Homo sapiens: one gene and its partner. The protein of the gene in region 1 interacts with the protein of each later gene in a pairwise test. Each region holds a gene or a part of one and is shown in the gene's direction. Other genes may lie near its edges. The genes, in order: NF1 and HTR6.

Region 1 (7,593 bases):
TTTATTCTAGTTCTCTACATTCCAAAGGTGTCAGTAGATGTTTCTTCTTATTGATGCTATTTGGGACATCTGCTTTCATTTATAGTTCTACATAAGAATGCCAATATTAAAATAGGATATAATGTAAATTTTATTTTTATCTGACAAGAATTAGGCATATCATTTCTTCAAAGTAATCATTTAAGGAAATAATGCCCTCACTCAAACACTGCTGCTCCTCCTCCAAATAATTAGAAATAACCTTGGAGCCAGTGTTGCAGCCCTAGAAAACATCCTGGTACTTAATGTCATTTCCTATATTTTATTTTTTTTTGAGACTGAGTCTCGCTCTGTCACCCAGGCTGGAGTGCAGTGGTACAGTCTCGGCTCATTGCAACCTCTGCCTCCCAGGCTCAAGTGACCCTTCCACCTCAGCCTCCCAAGTAGCTGGGCCTACAGGTGCACACCAACACACCTGGCTAATTTTTGTATTTTTTTTTTTTTTTTTTTTTAGAGATAGGGTTTTGCCATGTTGCCCAGGCTGGTCTTGAACTCCTGGCCTCAAGCAATCCGCCCGCCTCAGCCTCCCCAAGTGCTGGGATTACAAGCGTGAGCCACTGCACCCAGCTCTGTATTTTCAAATTACTATTTTATATTGATGCTACATTACTGTCTTAGAAAAGCATAGAGATACTTTGCAAGTGACTGAAGATAGTATTGATAGAGATTTAAAATTTTTGAATACCAATCTCTTAATCTCTGAAGGAGTCAAATGAATATACTCATCCTTTACTGGATATTTTATAATAAATTGTATTTACTGACAGGCCTGTAAATAAAATCTAGTATTTTTGAGGCCTCAGGTAAAATAGAATTTTCATATTGATTAGGCTGTTCCAATGAATATTTTTTAATTAAAAATTAAATTGGTAGAGTGATTAAAAACATGTTATTTTCCTTCTTCAACTAGATTACAGATCTGCTTGATGTTGTACTAGACAGTTTCATCAAAACCAGTGCAACAGGTGGCTTGGGATCAATAAAAGCTGAGGTGATGGCAGATACTGCTGTAGCTTTGGCTTCTGGAAATGTGAAATTGGTTTCAAGCAAGGTAATCACTTTTCTTTTGCCTTCTGTACTATAGCATATCTGTTTTATCATCAGGAGGTTTTTTGTTTTGTAATTACTTTTAAATTAAACTGAACTTTTTTGTGCTAAAACTTTGAGTCCCATGTTTTTTTTTTTAAAAAAAAAAATCCTGCTTCTTTACAGGTTATTGGAAGGATGTGCAAAATAATTGACAAGACATGCTTATCTCCAACTCCTACTTTAGAACAACATCTTATGTGGGATGATATTGCTATTTTAGCACGCTACATGCTGATGCTGTCCTTCAACAATTCCCTTGATGTGGCAGCTCATCTTCCCTACCTCTTCCACGTTGTTACTTTCTTAGTAGCCACAGGTCCGCTCTCCCTTAGAGCTTCCACACATGGACTGGTCATTAATATCATTCACTCTCTGTGTACTTGTTCACAGCTTCATTTTAGTGGTAAGTTCTAGGAAAGGAATTTGTGTTTACCAGTTCCTTTCTCCATTTTACTTCACCTGATCAATATAGATTATCTTATTTATGTTTGTGCTCTAACACCAAGTTGCTAATTTAAGCCTCCAGTAATGACATGAAATATTACCAAAAAGAAAATAAATTACTTCCATTCCATATCAAGCTATAGTAAAGATTTTCTATGCATACTTGTCATGTAGAGTTATCCCATAAGCGGAATACTCAGTGCCAGTTGACCATGTTCAGTTACCAGCACTAATTTGTAGATAAATGAAGCAAGGAGCATTAATACAATGTATCTAGAGGTTTGATTTAGGGAACATGATTATGTAATTTTTATATGGTATTCAAATTTTCTAAATTCAAAATGAAACATGGAACTTTAGAAATTAAAAAGTAATATTTTCTGTCTTTACTTGTTCCTTTATTCTCTTACAGAAGAGACCAAGCAAGTTTTGAGACTCAGTCTGACAGAGTTCTCATTACCCAAATTTTACTTGCTGTTTGGCATTAGCAAAGTCAAGTCAGCTGCTGTCATTGCCTTCCGTTCCAGTTACCGGGACAGGTCATTCTCTCCTGGCTCCTATGAGAGAGAGACTTTTGCTTTGACATCCTTGGAAACAGTCACAGAAGCTTTGTTGGAGATCATGGAGGTATAGAAGCCAAAATGATAAGAAACTAAGTTAAAATCTTTTTTTAAAAATATGTTAATACTATATAGAAGAAATATTGGTTTATTGTGCTATTTTGTACTTAATGCTTAAATAAAAACACTTGCATGGACTGTGTTATTGGTAACAGGTCACTTAATGACATCATAATAAACATTATTTAAACAGTTCTAAAAACATTTATGTACAATATGTATTCAGAGTATCCCCTTTTTTAGGCATGCATGAGAGATATTCCAACGTGCAAGTGGCTGGACCAGTGGACAGAACTAGCTCAAAGGTATGTCCTAAATTAAATATAAGTTGTAAAAATATGCATATTGTTGAAAATACAGCTATTACTGTATGATCAATGTTATAATTTATTATTTAGTATATATAAACACAAAGGTTTTTATAAGTTCTGTGGATCTTTTAATTGCAGATTTGCATTCCAATATAATCCATCCCTGCAACCAAGAGCTCTTGTTGTCTTTGGGTGTATTAGCAAACGAGTGTCTCATGGGCAGATAAAGCAGATAATCCGTATTCTTAGCAAGGTACCTGTTCCGCCCTCACTTCTCCCAAATATTTATGGTTCTCAAGTTGTAAAGCATATCTTTCATTTTTCTAAAAGACGTTTAAATTTGAGGTCAATGAAATATCTTATATGTTACTTATTAAGCCTTTAAAATGTATTTTGATTATTTATTGTAATTCTTTGAAGAAGTCTTCTCTAAAGAAGCTGTCTTTATATGTAAACTCTGATTACTTCATTAAGGAAGATGTCTTTAAAATAAAATATGTTGCCTCTTTTGCTAAGCAGGTACACTTAGTATTTTACCAGTTTTCAAAGCATTTAATTATATGGTAAGACTATAGCCTTGCATAAAATTATTTAATTTGTAATTACTATAATAATGTCTGACTCTTATAATGTAGAAATGTCAAAAAATAAGAAAACAAATGTACATTAAGCTAGCTACCAAGATCACCATAGCATGAGAAATCATTCTAGCATTTATTAAATAAGTAAATGTTCCTGAATTCATTCCGAGATTCAGTTTAGGAGTTAATGTTTTATTTCAATGAAAGTAAAATAAAAAATTCTGTTTTCCTAAAAGGCACTTGAGAGTTGCTTAAAAGGACCTGACACTTACAACAGTCAAGTTCTGATAGAAGCTACAGTAATAGCACTAACCAAATTACAGCCACTTCTTAATAAGGTAATTACTGTATAGAAAATGAGTGCATTCATTTTGGGTATCAGTGTTGAATGTTACTTTCTTTCAAAGAGTTTAGAAAATAAGATGAATTGAGAATAAGTTATAAAGAAAAAACTATAGTTAAAGTAGAACCTCTTAAAGTTTAGTTGTTTGAAGTAGTCATATTAGAAGAAGAGTAAGTATGGATAGTATGTTCTCAAGCGCTTGTAAGTTTTTGGTCTCATCAGTGCTAAAGGAAAGATAGGTATATATTCTTAATTATTTTATCTTATAACTATTAATTATCTGCTATTGCCAAGTACTGTTTTAGGCGCTAGAGATAGAGTACTAACAAAGCCCATAAAACTCACTGCCTTCATGGAGCTTACTTTCTGGGGTGGGTGTGGAGGTTGGGGAGTGAATGGATAATGAAGTAAACAAAATACGTAGTATGTTAGTGATTATTACTATGGAGAAATTAAAGCTGGGAGAAGTATACTTGATCGTCATAAGAGTTTGGGTGCCAAATGAAGATTATATTTAAAAGGAGTAAAATGAAGTGGCCACTGTTTTAGGATGGTCTGACCTTATCCCATTTTTATATTTAAGATATCTGGAAATCATGTTTTTGTATTAATAAAATGAAAAAGATTCGATAATGGCATGGTATTACCATCCAGTTCTAAAGTGGTTTAATTCTGTGATTTGAGTACAAAGGTATGCCAGACTTGGGAGAAATAACAGAGAAATAATACCTGTTATATTCCTGGTTTGTCTACAAGCATTCTAATTTTGTATTATACAAAATGGTTCTCTGGTCCCCATCTTCTAAGTGAAAATGAGCTCAGAAGGGCTAAATAACTTGCCCAAAGTCACATACCTAATAAAAGAACCATGATTCTAATGTGATACTATTTGACTCTAAAGTCCATGTATTTTCCCTAATATCACAGTGCTAAGTAAAGATTGCCAGTAATAAATACTTTTAATTCAGAGCAGCAAGAGATTACCATACTGGTTAAGAGTGACAAGAAGTTGAAAAGACAGTTTAAAATAAAGTTAAAGGGAAACATAGGAGTTAATGTAGGTAGAGAGAAAGGGAGAGAGCTGCACAAGAATGCCAGGACAATGGAGGGAAGGTGGGTAGAACATTCTAGTTGTAATGGAGAAGCTTTTCAAAGGAATCGAGAGAGGGAAAGTTGTGAGGACTGGATAGACCTCATCTCACATTCAGCATTGTTCAAAAGAGTTTGGAAATGTACAGTTTTTAAGCAGACAAGTCATACGATGAAAGCAGGACTTAGCTCCTGGTGGTAGTGTGCACAGTGGATTGGAGTAGGGAGAAACTGAAGTAAAAAGAATCCACCTTTATAATAAAGAAGGTTGGCATGTGGTAATGTCATTAGCAATAAGAAAGAAATGACAAAAGATACAAAAGAGACTACTCTAGAAGAATCAACAAACCTTGGTGACTGGATTTAGAAATCAAAGAACAGGGAGAAGTCAAAGGAGGTGCTAAGTAACGTTCTCAGTCCAGCTAACAGTGTCTTTAGTTATACATATGGAAAAGTGAAGAGCTTACTCATATCTTTATCTTCCCCAAAAGAGAAAACATGGGTAATTTAGGAAGATAAGCTGCTTTATTTTTAACTGCAGTGTGTTTTGAAAGAGACTATGTCATGATTCATCTTACTAGCCTCAAACATATCTTCTTTGCCAGGACTCGCCTCTGCACAAAGCCCTCTTTTGGGTAGCTGTGGCTGTGCTGCAGCTTGATGAGGTCAACTTGTATTCAGCAGGTACCGCACTTCTTGAACAAAACCTGCATACTTTAGATAGTCTCCGTATATTCAATGACAAGGTAAGCAAACTTTGCCTTGAGGTTCCTAGATTACTCAAATTTAGTACTCTTCCATCTTTTCTTGTTGCTATTCTTTTAAAATCACAAGAAGTCCATAACTTAAGTAGGAATTTGTATAATGTAACTTATTGTGAGTATATTTCCTTACCAGCTCATAAAGAACTATGTAAACTTGAATGCATATTTTTTACATAAAAATAGCAAAAAAAAAAAAACAAAAAAAAAACAGTACTGGCCTAATACTAGTAGAATTACAGAATAAGGATAAATAATACATGATCATCCTTACAGAATGAGCATAAACAATACATGGTAATAATATTAATAGCTACCATGCCAGGCCGTATGCTAAACACTATACATTTATTTTTAATTTTCATAACCTTAAGGTAAAGGTTAGCATTCTCTGCCCCCCATTTCACACGTGAAGAAATAATCTAAAAGTAATCTTAGTTTTACTTAATAATGCCACTTAATGAAAAATACGTATAATTCATAGTAGATAAGGAAGTTGGAGAGTCTAAAGGAAACTTTTGGGTACTTAATTTTACTAGTTTTTTTATTCTGTCTAATCTTACTTTAAAATATACCATTAGTGGCCAGGAGTGGTGGCTCATACCTGTAGTCCCAGCACTTTGGGAGGCCAAGACAGGTGGATCAGTTGAGCTCAGGAGTTAGAGAACAGCCTGGGCAACTTGCAAAACCCCATCTCTACAAAAAAGGCAAAAATTAGCTAGGCATGGTGGCATGCACCTACAATCCCAGCTACTCGGGAGGTGAGGTAGGAGGATTGCTTGAGCCTGGGAGGCAGAGGTTGCAGTGAGCTGAGATCACGCCACTGCACTCCAGCTTGGGCAACAGAGCAAGACCCTGTCTCCAAAAAAAAGTGTGTATACATATATTACATACACACATATATATGTAATGTATGTGTATATATATATATAAAGTGTGTGTGTGTGTGTGTGTGTGTGTACACACATAAAATATGTAAAATCCAACTCCAATTAAGGTTAATAAATGTTAGGAGGGGTGCTAATGGGGTGTGTGTGTGTGTGTGCACGTGTGCATGTGTGTGTGTATATATATATGAACATGGGCAAATTACTTCTTAGTTCCTTTCTAATTTGTAAAATGGAGATCTAATTGGGGTTGGATTTTAGTTCATAGAGAATAGAGGAGAGAATAAAATAGTATGAAATTACGTCCCTTTTGTCTTTGGATAAAAATGGGAAGGGTCTAGGAGAAAAGAGGGGAATGTTTTTAAAAGAATGTGTATATACAGTGAGATTTGCTTGAAGTGAAATTAACTGAACTGTGGGTACAAAGAACAGGATTATGGTTTTAAGTGTAAAAAGATACTTGGTCTAAACATTATTAGTTCAGTCTACCAGATGTAGTGTGAACCTGGAACAGATATGGGTCTGAAAAATATAGAAGCAAAATTTTAGAGGTAAGAGGTCTTATGGAGTTTATTAATCAGACCTCCATTTTGCAAATTAGAAAGGAACTAAGAAGTTAAGTAACTTGCCCATGCTTGTACATCTGTTTTGGGACTAGAACCCCTCTGTCCTAATTCTCATTGCCGTTTTTCTAAAACTGTTTTGGGACAGTGGTGGTCAGCGATATCTAGTTGTTGGCTATTTATATGTTAAGAATATTTGCAAATTGGCCGGGTGCAATGGCGCATGTTTGTAATTCCAGCACTCTGGGAGGCCGAGTTGGGAGGATCACTTGAGGTTAGGAGTTCGAGACCAGCCTGGCCAACATGGTGACACCCTGTCTCTACTAAAAATACAAAAATTAGCCAGGGTGGCACATGTTTGTAACTCCAGCGACCTGGGAGGCTGAGGTGGGAAGATCTCTTGAACCCAGGAGGTTGCAGTGAGCCAAGGTGGTGCCACTGCACTCCAGCCTGGGCGACAGAGTAAGACTCCATCTCAAAAAAAGAATATTTGCAAATGGAGCATTGCAAATGGGGCATCTGCCTCGGTATTTTCATCTTCAAAACAGCCCAGTAGCGGGAGCTAATATTGATTCTAGTGCCCTTTGGATGCTAGGCATCAGAGTTAATAAGCATGTTAAAAGTCACCGGGATGTAAATTGACAGTCATTTATTTTGTATTGTAAATAAAAGTGATTTCATCTTCCACCATCTTCTTATTTATATGCTTGACTGTCTTGCACCAGTTAATTTGTAGTAGCTAAAATGTTCTGTGGTTTTCTGCAGTCAACTGAAAATAATTTCTCTCAAATTGAAAGGATTACTTATCTTGTCATACTATTGAACACAAAATTAAGTGAGCCTTTAAAGAAAGCTACTGTGTGAAC
Region 2 (12,516 bases), on another chromosome or scaffold:
TCAGTTTTTTTGCTTTTTTTTTTGTTTTTGTTTTTGTTTTTTTTGAGACGGAGTCTCGCTCTGTTGCCCAGGCTGGAGGGCAGTGGTGCGATCTTGGCTCACTGCAACCTCTGCCTCATGGGTTTAAGCGATTCTTCTGCCTCAGCCTCCTGAGTAGCTGGGATTACAGGCACCCACCACTATACCAGGCTAACTTTTGTATTTTTGGTAGAGATGGGGTTTCACCATATTGGCCAGGTTGGTCTTGAACTCCTGATCGAGGTCAGTTTTGATCCCCACTGTGCATAGTAGGTCCCATCTTGTTTCAGTGCCTGGGAATGGGGTAGGTGCTCTTAGCTCAAGGCCTTGCATTGTCTATAAGTGAGTGCCTGCTCTTGCCATCCAGGCCACAGTGCACCTGACTCCTATTGACCCCCTGGAGGGGTGGGTGTGTAGACCGACCAGGCCTGAGACCCAGTGACTTAGGTCGCAGGTCTTGAGGAAAGTCCCAGCTGGGCTCTTTTGGTGTAGCCCTGAGTGGTGAAAGCTCTAGGAGGGTGGGGGTTGCATTGGAGGTCACTGGGCACATGGGGACTTGGCAGAGGGGTGAAAGGCTAACACCCTCCTTGGCAGTCCCCCAGACAAGCTTGCCTGTCCCACCCAGGTGGGTGAGGCCCAAAGTTGCCCCTGCCTATCACCTGGGGTGGGGGCAGGGCCCCACATGGACTGGGAGTCCTGGCTGCCGCCCAGCTCCTTCTCCCTATCCCTGCTCCCTGTAGAACATTCTTGAGTCTTGGCAGGTGGCTGGGACTCTGACTTGCTTCTTCAGGGGTGGGATGGCTGCCTTAGGCCATATACCCTGGGTTCTTGCTTTTTGTTGTTGTTATTGTTGTTTTTTAAGAGACAGGGTCTTGCTCTGTCACCCAGGCTGGAGGGCTGGAATGTAGTGGCGTGATTATAGCTCACTGCAGCTTAGAATTGATCATAGCTCATTCCAGCCTGAAGAGCTGGTATGCACTGGCCCGATCATAACTCACTGAACTCTTGGGCTCAAGCGATCCTCCTGTCTTGGCCTCCCAAAGTGCTAGGGTTACAGGCTTCCCTGGGTTCTTGAAAAGGAGTGTTTCACAAGCTTCAGGCATTCAAGAACTGCCTGCGGATATCTTCCTTAATGCCTCTTCCACCACCACCTCCACACCTTAAGCCACTTAATTCACATGCACTTGGCATTTTATTTATTTATTTATTAGACACAGGGTCTCACTATATTGCCCAGGCTGGCCTCGAGCTCCCACTTCAGCCTCCCGAGTAGCTGGAATTGCAGGTGCATGCCCCCGTGCCTGGCATTCTTGACATTTTCTTTAAATCATCTCTTTTATATTTTTACTTCCACAAATTTGTGTAGAAAGAAAACTTCGTATCTCCTCTAGAAATGGAAAATCTGTATCCTTTGCCATAAATAGAAGGTGATCACAAACACCACTTCAGTGAAACTGAAGAAGCTCCAGCCCTATCACTGAAATGCAGCTTGGTGTGGTTGAGGTGATGAGCCTAGGGCCTGCTTTCTCTTTGTAGCGTGCTAGAAGGTATTACAAACATGGTAGCATCAACGTGGGACTTTCTCTTGACGCACCTAGAAGAGCTGGAAGACAGCTGTAATGGGCTGACGTGCTCACTCTGTGATTCACTCATTTTATGGGGTGTCCCTTTACCATCTAAAATCATCTCCATTCCCACAGTTCAGGAAGCTCTGCTCTCGTGACTAAGGATGTGAGAAGTTGGCTGGTCTGGGTGAGGTTGGGGCGGGAGAGATCAGGATTCCTAGTTGCAGCGGTGCCAGTACCACACAGATTTTCTTTCCATGAATCTCGCTGGCTGGTACTAGGATTGAACCTGAGTCTGTGGTCTTGGAACCTGGGCAGGAGTCTCCCAGGTGCTAACAGCTGCAGCCCCACAATCTGTGAGCACTCACTCTGTACCAGGCACTGAGCTAAACTTATTAATTCCCCAAACACCCAATGAGTCAAGTACTACCAGCACCCCTGTTAGACAGGTGGGGAAACTGAGGCTCAGAGCGAGAGGTGACTTGCCCAAGATTGCACAGTTGGTAAGTGAGGTTTAAGCTCGGATCTGGCTGGTGCCATCGCCCTGTGCTGGTGTGCTGCCTGTGGGCAGTGATGCTCTTGAAATGCTTTGCTCGGGGACCCCACACCTTGCCCCTTTTCTTCTCTGTGCCTTCTGGTCTTCTCTGTTGGGTCCTCCTGATCCGCCTGAGCCATGGCATCCCTAGTCCTCAGTCCTCGGAGCATCTCGTCCTTTTTCCACATTTGCCCCGTTAGTGACCTCATCTTGTCTCGTAACTGAAAATACCACCCACACGCTGATGACTTCCTACCTGGGCTGCTTACAGGCACGTGCTGCCACGCCCAGCTAATTTTTGTATTTTTAGTAGAGACAGGGTTTCACCATGTTGGCCAGGCTGGTCTCGAACTCCTGACCTTACGTGATCTGCTAGCCTCGGCCTCCCAAAGTGCTGGGATTACAGGCGTGAGCCACTGCGCCTGGCCCTGACTTCCTGATTCCGCTCTTCCTCCCTTTCAACCTTCCGCAGTGGCCCCAATGATCCCCTTTACAATGCAGTTCCTGCTGCATCATTCCTCTGCTCTGGCAGCCTTGTGTCTCACATCACCTGGCCCTCTGACCCTATCTGGCCTCCTCTCCTTCTATAATCCTGCTTGTTTCTTCTCTTTCAGCCATACTGGCCTCCTTGCTGTTCCTTGAACACACCAAGCCCATTCTGCCTCACTTGCGGTTCCTTCTGCTTGGAGTGCCCTTTCTTCAGGTCTCCACCCTGTTCTCCCACTAATTTCCATCATTTCCTTCCAGCCTCTGTTGAATTGCCTCCCCTAATCCCTCTCTCAAGAGTAGCACCTCTCACCCTCCCCAGGTCCTCTCCAGTCCTCATTTCCTAAGTTATTTCTCTCAGCAGCACCTCCTACCCCCTGACGTGTTCTATACCTACCCATTTTTATTTATTTACTGTTTATTTCCTTCTTCTAGAATTTAGGCCTATGAGGGTGGGGAACTTGTTTTTCTGCCTTTTTTTTTTTTTTTGAGACAGAGTCTCACTTTCTCGCCCAGGCTGGAGTGCAGTGGCGTGATCTTGGCCCACTGCAACCTCCGCTTCCCAGGTTCAAGCAATTCTCCTGCCTCAGCCTCCGGAGTAGCTGGGCTATAGGTGCACATCGCCACACCGGGCTAATTTTTTGTATTTTAGTAGAGATGGGGTTTCACTGTGTTGCCCAGGCTGGTCTTGAAACCCTGAGCTCAGGCAATCCACCCGCCTTGGCTTTCCAAAGTGCTAGGATTACAGGCGTGAGCTACCATGCCTGGCCTGTCTTTCTGTTTTCCCCCATGGTCCCAGGAATTAGGGGCACCTGGCACATCATGGGTGCTCAGTATGTATTGATGGAAGGAATGCAGTGTACACAGTGCTTCAGGGAGCCTGGTATTCCAGCCCTGTTTGTGCGGTTGCCTGTTTTCTCATGCCTTTCAGAGTCACTTCTTGAGTGTCATGATCCTGAACTTTTTATCGTGTGAATTCATTTGCTTGGTGACATGTATTGACACCTGCTTTGCACAGCAGCTGTTCTAGGCTGTGTATGTAGTGGTGAACGAGACCAACAGTGCCTGCCCTCTTGAAATCTGTTCTAGTTAGGAGTACAGACATTAATCATCAAACTGTACCACGATGAGGATTATGGAGCTTATAGGAGGGATGCTTCACCCAGCAAACATTCAAAATCTATTATTCACTGTGTATGTTTGAAGATGAAAGCAAAGCACTCACACCAAGCCCTAAAGTGAAAGGCTGGAGGGGTCTTCATGGGTTGGTTAGGCCAGCGCCTTACTTCTAAGGCAGAGTGACTCAGGGGCCTCTCAAGCCAGAAATGTGTCTGTTCTAATCCCCCCGCTTTCTGGAAAGCCCATTCTCTTGGTTTGAACGTGACGTGTGCAAATTCTGCCTCTGTTCCTGCTTTCAAATCCACTCGGCTCCTTAAGTAAGCCTCCTGCAGGCCGTTTTCCTGATTGCCTGGTGAACGGCCTGCACTTTGGGAAAATGCATCTGAGAAATTGCATTGGCCCTCCTGGGTCACCGCCTCTTTCTTCCCACCAGAGCTGGCCTGGAGGTGGAGGCCCCCTCAATGTTTGGACCTAAAGGAAGTGATGAGAATGAATCAGATGTGGGTGTCTTGGACCCCTTCCCTTTTCCTGTGCCCAGCCCCACTTAGCCTTGGCTTCCTGCCCCATTCCACTCTCTAGCTTCCCTGCAGAGGGAAAGGAGCTGGGCATAGGTCTCGAGGCCCCAGTTCCTCTGGGGTCAGAACATGGGAGCTGGTCAGCCTTGAGCATTTCATCCCCTCTCCATATGTCTATTTATGGAAATGGGCTTTTAAAAGGCCACTGGTTGGCTTAGTGATTTCCACTAGGTCTTCCCACCACCTCAGGGCTGGGAGGAAGGGGTCCTGCTTAGCACTGTGGCTGGGAGTGTGGGCTGGGGATGGAGGAAGAGCCGTGGGGCAGAGTGAGGAGCTACCAGGGCAGGGGAGTGTGTGTGTTGGGAGCAGGGTGGAAGGTGGGGGCCTGGATGTGGGTGGCACTGAGCCATCCTTGGGAGATTGTGGAGGGTCCAGGGTGTTAGGGGCAGTTTCAGAGATGCAGCATGGGCCACTGGCTTGAGGGAGAGCCCAGCAGGAGAGGCCCAGCCTCCTCCTCTTCCTGGCAGGATTTCTGGGTCTCTGTGGTCCATAACCTCATCCCATCTCTACACCTCACCTTCCTCCCCACTCCCATCCATCCTTCTCTCCTTCAGTTCCCATGTCTTCCTTCTGTGTGCCCCGTCTTCCCCTCCCCCTTCTCCTGTCCCATCAATTTCTCCCGCTTTTCCTCCTCCCCCTCCTTTTTTCACCCTCTCTCACCCAACTAAGCGTCATTCTGTCTTAGTGATCCATCTTCCCTTCCATCTCTGTCTTTCCTCCTCCTCAGAGGAGGAGGCTGTGATCACAGAAATATCTGTGAGGGGGAGGAGGGGGCCGAGCCAGGGAGAGGCTGGCAGAGTGACACTGCCGAGCATGGCAGGCTTGGCTGCTGCTCAGAGCCAGGCAGCCTGGTGCAGCCAGGGCTGGAGCAGGAGCTTGGGGGTCTGGCTGGTTAGGGTTCAAGCCCTGCCTCTTTTGCCTCATAGCTGGACGATCTTGGGCAAGGCATTTTACCTCCTTATGCTCCAGGGGTCATGACATCTATCACACAAGTCTGTTTGAAGAGTCAATTAGATAATATACATAAAATACCAGGCACATAGTAAGTGCTCAACAAATTTCAGCTAGGCAGTGACTCACAACTGTAATCCCAACACTTTGGGAGGCCAAGGCAGGAGGATTCTTTGAAGCTAGGAGTTCGAGACCAGCCTGGGCAACATAGCGAGCTCCTGTCTCTAAAAATATATATAAAAAATTAGCCAGGCCTGGTGGCACATACCTTTAGTTACAGCTATTCGAAGAGGCTGAGGTGAGAGGATTGCTTGAGCCCAGGCAACAGAGCAAGACCCCATCTTTAAAACAACAACAATAGTTGTTCGTGCCTCTCTTTTCCTGTTGTTGGTAAAATATGTTTCTGGGGAGCTCACCACCTTGACCCTTTCTAGGGAAAAACATCACTGCTGTCACCAGCACCATCACCATCATTATCAAACAGCTGAGCCAGAGACTAATAATAATGACAACAATAGCTAACACTTCTATGGGACTTCCTATGTGCTGGCACTGTTCTAACTTTCAGTGTATTATTTTATTTTATCCTTATTATAATCCTATGAGGTAGATGCTATTTTAGTGCCATTTTACAGAACAGAAAGTGGAAGCATAGATGAAGTAACTTGCTTAAGGTCACTCCACTAGTTTGTAACAGAGCCAGGATTTGAAACCAGGCAGTCTGGCTCCAGAGTCTGTCTTGTAACTCTCACACTATGATCAGATGATGGTAACAAAATTTAATTGTGGGCTGGGCGTGGTGGCTCACGCCTGTAATCCCAGCACTTTGGGAGGCCGAGGTGGGTGGATCACCTGAGATCGGGAGTTTGAGACTAACATGGAGAAACCCCATCTCTACTAAGGTACAAAATTAGATGGGCATGGTGGTGCACACCTGTAGTCCCAGCTACTTGGGAGGCTGAGGCAGGAGAATCGCTTGAACCCGGGAGGCAGAGGTTGTGGTGAGCCGAGATCGCGCCATTGCACTCCAGCCTGGGCAACAAGAGCGAGACTTCGTCTCAAAAAATAAATAAATAAATAAATAAAATTAATTGCACAAAGGAATACATAAATACACTTTAAAAATTCAACAATAGGGATGAAGGAAAAGACCTCCAAATTCCAGCTAATCACCTTTCACTCCCAGGGACATGCATCAATTTAGGATATGTCCTTCTAGGTCTTTTTTTTTTTTTTTTTTTCTGTTAGGACAGAGTGTCACTCTGTCACCCAGGCTGGAGTGCAGTGGTACAACCACGGCTCACTGCAGCCTTGACCTCTTCTGACTCAGGTGATCCTCCCACGTCAACCTCCGGAGTAGCTGGGGCTACAGACGCACATCACCATGCCTGGCTAATTTTTGTATTTTTTGTAGAGATGGGGTTTCACCATGCTGCCCAGGCTGGTCTTGAACTCCTGGACTCAAGCAATCCACCTGCCTCGGCCTCCCAAAGTGCTGGGATTACAGGTGTGAGCCACTGCACCTAGCCCTTCCGGGTCATTTTCTATGTGCTTATGTATTTATACAGGTACTTAAAGAAACTTGGTGCTTTGTGTTGGATATTGTTTTTTAAACAAATAGGATCATGCTGTATCTATTACTTTGCAACCTGCTATTATAATTTAATAATCATGGAGATCTTTTCATTTGATTGATTCATTCTTTTAAAACATCTGTGTAGTATTCTGTAGTGGGAATTCACCGTGGTTTATTTAAGCCACTCTTCTCTTTTTTTTTTTTTTTTTTGAGACAAACTCTCACTCTGTCACCCAGGCTGGAGTGTGGTGGTGTGATCTCGGCTCACTGCAGCCTCCACCTCCTGGGTTCAAGTGATTCTCCTGCCTCAGCCTCCTGAGTAGTGGGACTACAGGCATGCACCACCACACCTGGCTAATTTTTTTATTTTTAGCAGAGACAGGGTTTTGCCATGTTGGCCAGGCTGGTCTCGAACTACTGACCTCAAGTGATCTGCCCACCTTGGCCTCCCAAAGGGCTGAGATTATAGGCGTGAGCCACTGTGCCCAGCCTAAACCACTCTTCTTTTGATGGACATTAAGGCTGTTTCCAATTTTTTCCTATCACAAGTAGTGCTGTGGGACACATTCTTGGATATGTGAAGCGTGCAGACATGAATGTAGGTGTTGGCTGGAAGCTGTATGTGTGATTGTTGGCTGGAAGGGCCCTGGATTGTCCTTCAGGAAGCTGCCCTCTGACACTGATACAGAAGGGAGATGCAAACGACAGGACATGGCCCCAAGGGGCTGCGAGGTGCTTATGGGGGAGAGAGAATCCAGAAGGGTGATGCCAGCATCAGCCAGATGCCGGGGTGTGGACTAGTGACAGCCATTGGCTTCTGCTCCATGAGGGCCTCTTGCTGACAGTGGTGGGGTTTCTGTAACCCCACCTGACTGGGCCCATGGATGCCGTCTCCAAAGGTGGAAGCAGCTTGGTGAAGTGGGCAGAGTGGTGTTCCTGAGGCCAGAAATGATGGAATCCCTAACTCAACTCTTAACTGCTGTGTGACTTCTGGCAAGTCATTTTGCCTCTCCGAGCCTCAGTTGTCTCATCTGCAAAATGGGGATGACAATGCCTACCTCTCATAAAGACTGAATGACCTAATGACTATCAAATGCTGATGTGTAGTAAGTGCTCGAGAAATGGGGATGATAATGCTGATTTGTTCAGGGCCACTCAGGTTTTGGTTGGAGGCCTTGTACTGGAACAGTGTGACCTTGGGAAGGGTAGAGTGTCCTCTACCCTTTCTGAGCCTCAGTTTCCTTCTCTCTTTCCTCTTCCCTGTGTTCTTGAGTCAACTCTCTGGAAAGCAGAGGAGAAAGAAAAACCTGGAGTTGTTCCCAGGGAGACTAGAAAGGGAATCTCAGTTCATCTTCACCCCATTCTCTGGAGCTCCTTCCCCCAATGATTGACCTGAGATATTCCCCCTAGTGCCTCAGTTTCCCCCATGCCCTAGAGCTGTGATAAGATCAGGGCTACCTCCTCTCCCCTGCCCTCCTCAGGTCACTAAGGGTCAGAGCGATGCCTGGATGAGACAGTGTCTCATCCCTCTCCATGCCGTCTATTCCCATTGATGGCAGCAATTTGAAGGTGTGGCAGGTCTTAGGAGATTCTTTTGGGGAAGCAGGAGCCTCTTCCTCCAGGCTGACCATGGTGTGGTCACAAAAGCCATATAGAGTCCACTCTGGAGGAGAGAAAACTAGAAGAGGAGAGAGGAGAGTAAAACCCTCTTTTACTCCCTTGCTAACTTGGAATGACTTTGGAGCAGACTCGTGTATGATGGGGTGGAGTCGGAGGAGAGCATCCTCTAGTCATAGCATCTGAGCCGCAGCGTGGTGACTCAGAGCATTTGTCTTGGTGTCTGTGCTGCTTTGGGGAGGCCAGAGCTGCTGGCAGAAGGACAGGCTCCCCAACAGTGCTCAAAATCACCCCAACCTCACAACACATATCACTGAAACAGCAACATGGCTACCAGGTATTTAGCACCTACTCAACGTCAGACTCTGTGCATGCATTTATTATCCATAGCTTCACAGCGACGCCGTAAGCTGAGTATCATTTCTCCCATTTTGCAGATGTGGAAACAGAGGCTCTCTCAAGATCACAGAGCGAGTAAGTGGTAGAGGCCACTTTGATTTGAAGCCAGATCACCTGTCTTAAAAGCCCAGGTTTTGCCTCTGTACAATGCTGTCTCACCAAGACAGAAGGGAGAAACCAAGGCCTCTGTTGTGAATTTGTATAACCTTGATATTTGTACAACCAGATTTCATGTGAAGAAACACGTTGAGGGGTGGGGATTACGATGTGCTTCGTCTCCCTGCCCCAGCAACCTCCTTGCCATTTCAGAATTAGAATTCCAGCTTCTATGAAAAGACCGCGTGTAGTTGGGGTTTCAGCACCATGGACAAGACACCAACTCTGGAGGCCTAGAAAGAGCCGGGGCTGGAGGAGAGGGCATGCGCAGCAGAGTGGGGTGGGGTGTTGGCTTTGGTGCTCCCTGGAGTTGACACATCTTGGCTTTGCCTCCTCCGCCTTTCCATCTGCGGAAGGTTGCCTGGGAATCTGGCTCTGCTCCTGCCTCCTTCTGACCTCATCTCCCCATATCCAACCCACCTCTGGCCTCGAGAACTAAGCAGGGCTCTCACGCAATTTAGGAACTGGACAAATCCCAGTGCCGGGAAAATCCCTGGCTGTCAAAGCCCAGATGTATTCACAGACCGCAAACACACCCTTTGCGTAGCTCATGATGAATTGTGCACACCACTGCCCACGGGCATTAAATAGTAAATAGAGGTGGGCCTAATTTTGTGTAAATCTAATATATGAAAATCCACGTTGATTACAGAAACACATGGTTTAGAGGAGGGCTTCACATCCCAGCTTTCACGGACTCCTAGGGGTTTCTGGTGGAAACCTAGAGACTTCAAGGTCATCTCTGAACCTTCTGGAAGTGTGAAACGTTGTTTTCTTGTCTGTGTGTGTGTGTGTAAAAATTTACAAGCCTTTTATTTTCTGGGGAGAGGTTTGTGTGTGTGTGTGTGTGTGTGTGAGATTTCATTAGATTTTCAAAAGGCTCATGAAGTTTAACAAGTGAAGAGCACTGCTGAGCTAAAGAATGATCCAGCTCAGAGAGCCCTTTGGGACTGTGGGGGCCAGTTTGCAAAGTCAAATTCTAACCTCCCCGGGCCCATGCCTTCCTTTCAGTGGCTGCTGGGAAGTAGCTTCTTTCTCTTCCTCCCTCCTACCCCTTCCTCCTCTTCCTGTCCACTTTTGAGAATGGAGATGCCTGCCAGTTCGCAGTATAATTGAGCTATAAAATGCCAAGGTAACCAGCATCCTTAGGAGCCTATTAAGAGATTTAGCTGCAAACATTGGCTCTGTGCACACATTCTCAAAAAAGCCTTTCTATTTTGTGGGGCTCAAGAGTAATTGCCCAGGCAAGACTATTGCTCCCAAATGTGAAGACAATCCACATACAAAGCAATTGCCAAGCTCTGGACAGTAACAGGTCCTCTTTTTCAAGTACTGTTCAATTGCAATTGATTTTGTGTGTGTCTGTGTGTGTGACAGAGTCTCGCTCTGTCACCCAGGCTTGGAGTGCAGTGATGTGAGCTTGGCACACTGCAACCTCCACCTCCTGGGTTCAAGCAATTCTCCTGCCTCAGTCTCCTGAGTAGCTGGGATTACAGGTGCCTGCCACCACGCCTGGCTAATTTTTGTATTTTTAGTAGAGGCAAGGTTTCACCCTGTTGGCCAGGCTGGTCTCAAACTCCTGACCTCAAGTGATCTGCCTGCCTCGGCCTCCCAAAGTGCTGGGATTACAGGCGTGAGCCACTGTGCCCAGTCAATTGCAATTGATTTCTGTAGCGCTAAAGGCTTTGGAAGGTGCTGGGCTCATTGTAATGTGTGTGTTGGCCTGTGTCACGTATTGTCTTTGCAGGGATGGTTGTTCTTCTGAACCATCTGATTTGTGTTTCAGGTATTGCTCTGTCTCACTGCACTTCCTAGAGCTCCTTATGAAATTCTGGGTCAGGGTCAGGGCTCAGTGTGGGACCAGGATCAGAGCTCAGTCTAGGTCCACAGTTGAGGCTTGGTTTGAGAACTTGGTTATGTAGGGCTTTATGGTAGGTGTCAGGGTTCAGTGGGGGGCCAAGGTCAGGGCTTGGTTTATTGCTGATGTCAGGGCTTGGCCTGGAGTCAGGGTCAGGGCTCAGTCTAGGACTCTAGTTGGGACTCAGTCAAGGAACAGGGCCCAGTTTAATCCTGGCACTAGGGCTCAGTCTAGAATTAGGATTGAAGCTCAGTCTGTGGCTAGGATCAGGGTCAGACGGGGGCCCTTTCTCAACGGACTCATGTGGCCTTCCTTTCCGCAGGTGCCCAGGACCCCACGCCCAGGGGTGGAGTCTGCTGACAGCAGGCGTCTAGCCACGAAGCACAGCAGGAAGGCCCTGAAGGCCAGCCTGACGCTGGGCATCCTGCTGGGCATGTTCTTTGTGACCTGGTTGCCCTTCTTTGTGGCCAACATAGTCCAGGTAATGCCACGGCAGGGGGCAGGTGAGTCCGGCCCTTGCAGGAGAGGCCCTGGATCCCAGCCCAGGCATGGGGACAGGGGAGGGTAGGCTGCCTCTCGTGGTGCGTGTGTGTGTGTGTCTGCTCCATACATGCTGGGAAGGGTGGCCTGGGTCCCTGCCCTGGGACCAGGCATGATGCATCCCCTCCCCCCAGGCCGTGTGCGACTGCATCTCCCCAGGCCTCTTCGATGTCCTCACATGGCTGGGTTACTGTAACAGCACCATGAACCCCATCATCTACCCACTCTTCATGCGGGACTTCAAGCGGGCGCTGGGCAGGTTCCTGCCATGTCCACGCTGTCCCCGGGAGCGCCAGGCCAGCCTGGCCTCGCCATCACTGCGCACCTCTCACAGCGGCCCCCGGCCCGGCCTTAGCCTACAGCAGGTGCTGCCGCTGCCCCTGCCGCCGGACTCAGATTCGGACTCAGACGCAGGCTCAGGCGGCTCCTCGGGCCTGCGGCTCACGGCCCAGCTGCTGCTTCCTGGCGAGGCCACCCAGGACCCCCCGCTGCCCACCAGGGCCGCTGCCGCCGTCAATTTCTTCAACATCGACCCCGCGGAGCCCGAGCTGCGGCCGCATCCACTTGGCATCCCCACGAACTGACCCGGGCTTGGGGCTGGCCAATGGGGAGCTGGATTGAGCAGAACCCAGACCCTGAGTCCTTGGGCCAGCTCTTGGCTAAGACCAGGAGGCTGCAAGTCTCCTAGAAGCCCTCTGAGCTCCAGAGGGGTGCGCAGAGCTGACCCCCTGCTGCCATCTCCAGGCCCCTTACCTGCAGGGATCATAGCTGACTCAGATATCGTGTTCTGAAGGATGCTCCACTGTTGAGTGTAACTTGTGTGTGCAGAGGATGGGCTGGAGGACTCTGGATGTTGGGGAGAAGGACCTCTTGGTTCAGGTTAGGATGAAAACAATCATGACCTTTGCCCATTCTGTCAGGCTGGACGGGAGGGAATGCCCCCACCTGCAGGCATGGATTAATGCTGGGCTGAACCCCTTGCTACTCACAGTGTAGTCCATGGACAATCGGCATTGCCGTCACCTTTGGGAGTTTGTGAAAAATGCACATCTCTGCCCCTGCCCAGACCTGCTGAGTCAGAACTGCATGTTACCAAGATCCCAGGTGAATCATGTGCCCAT

The links.
Region 2: the proteins of NF1 (region 1) and HTR6 come close enough for resonance energy transfer, tested with the Homo sapiens proteins (one study listed by BioGRID).

What each region holds. Positions count from the first base shown.
Region 1 is NC_000017.11:31,335,384-31,342,976, forward strand, and holds part of NF1 (neurofibromin), read left to right. Parts: intron 1-949; coding exon 950-1,090; intron 1,091-1,251; coding exon 1,252-1,531; intron 1,532-1,984; coding exon 1,985-2,199; intron 2,200-2,435; coding exon 2,436-2,497; intron 2,498-2,641; coding exon 2,642-2,756; intron 2,757-3,320; coding exon 3,321-3,422; intron 3,423-5,121; coding exon 5,122-5,262; intron 5,263-7,593. UniProt on the Homo sapiens protein: Stimulates the GTPase activity of Ras. NF1 shows greater affinity for Ras GAP, but lower specific activity. May be a regulator of Ras activity.
Region 2 is NC_000001.11:19,667,390-19,679,905, forward strand, and holds part of HTR6 (5-hydroxytryptamine receptor 6), read left to right. Parts: intron 1-11,177; coding exon 11,178-11,336; intron 11,337-11,529; coding exon 11,530-11,979; 3' UTR 11,980-12,516. UniProt on the Homo sapiens protein: G-protein coupled receptor for 5-hydroxytryptamine (serotonin), a biogenic hormone that functions as a neurotransmitter, a hormone and a mitogen. Also has a high affinity for tricyclic psychotropic drugs.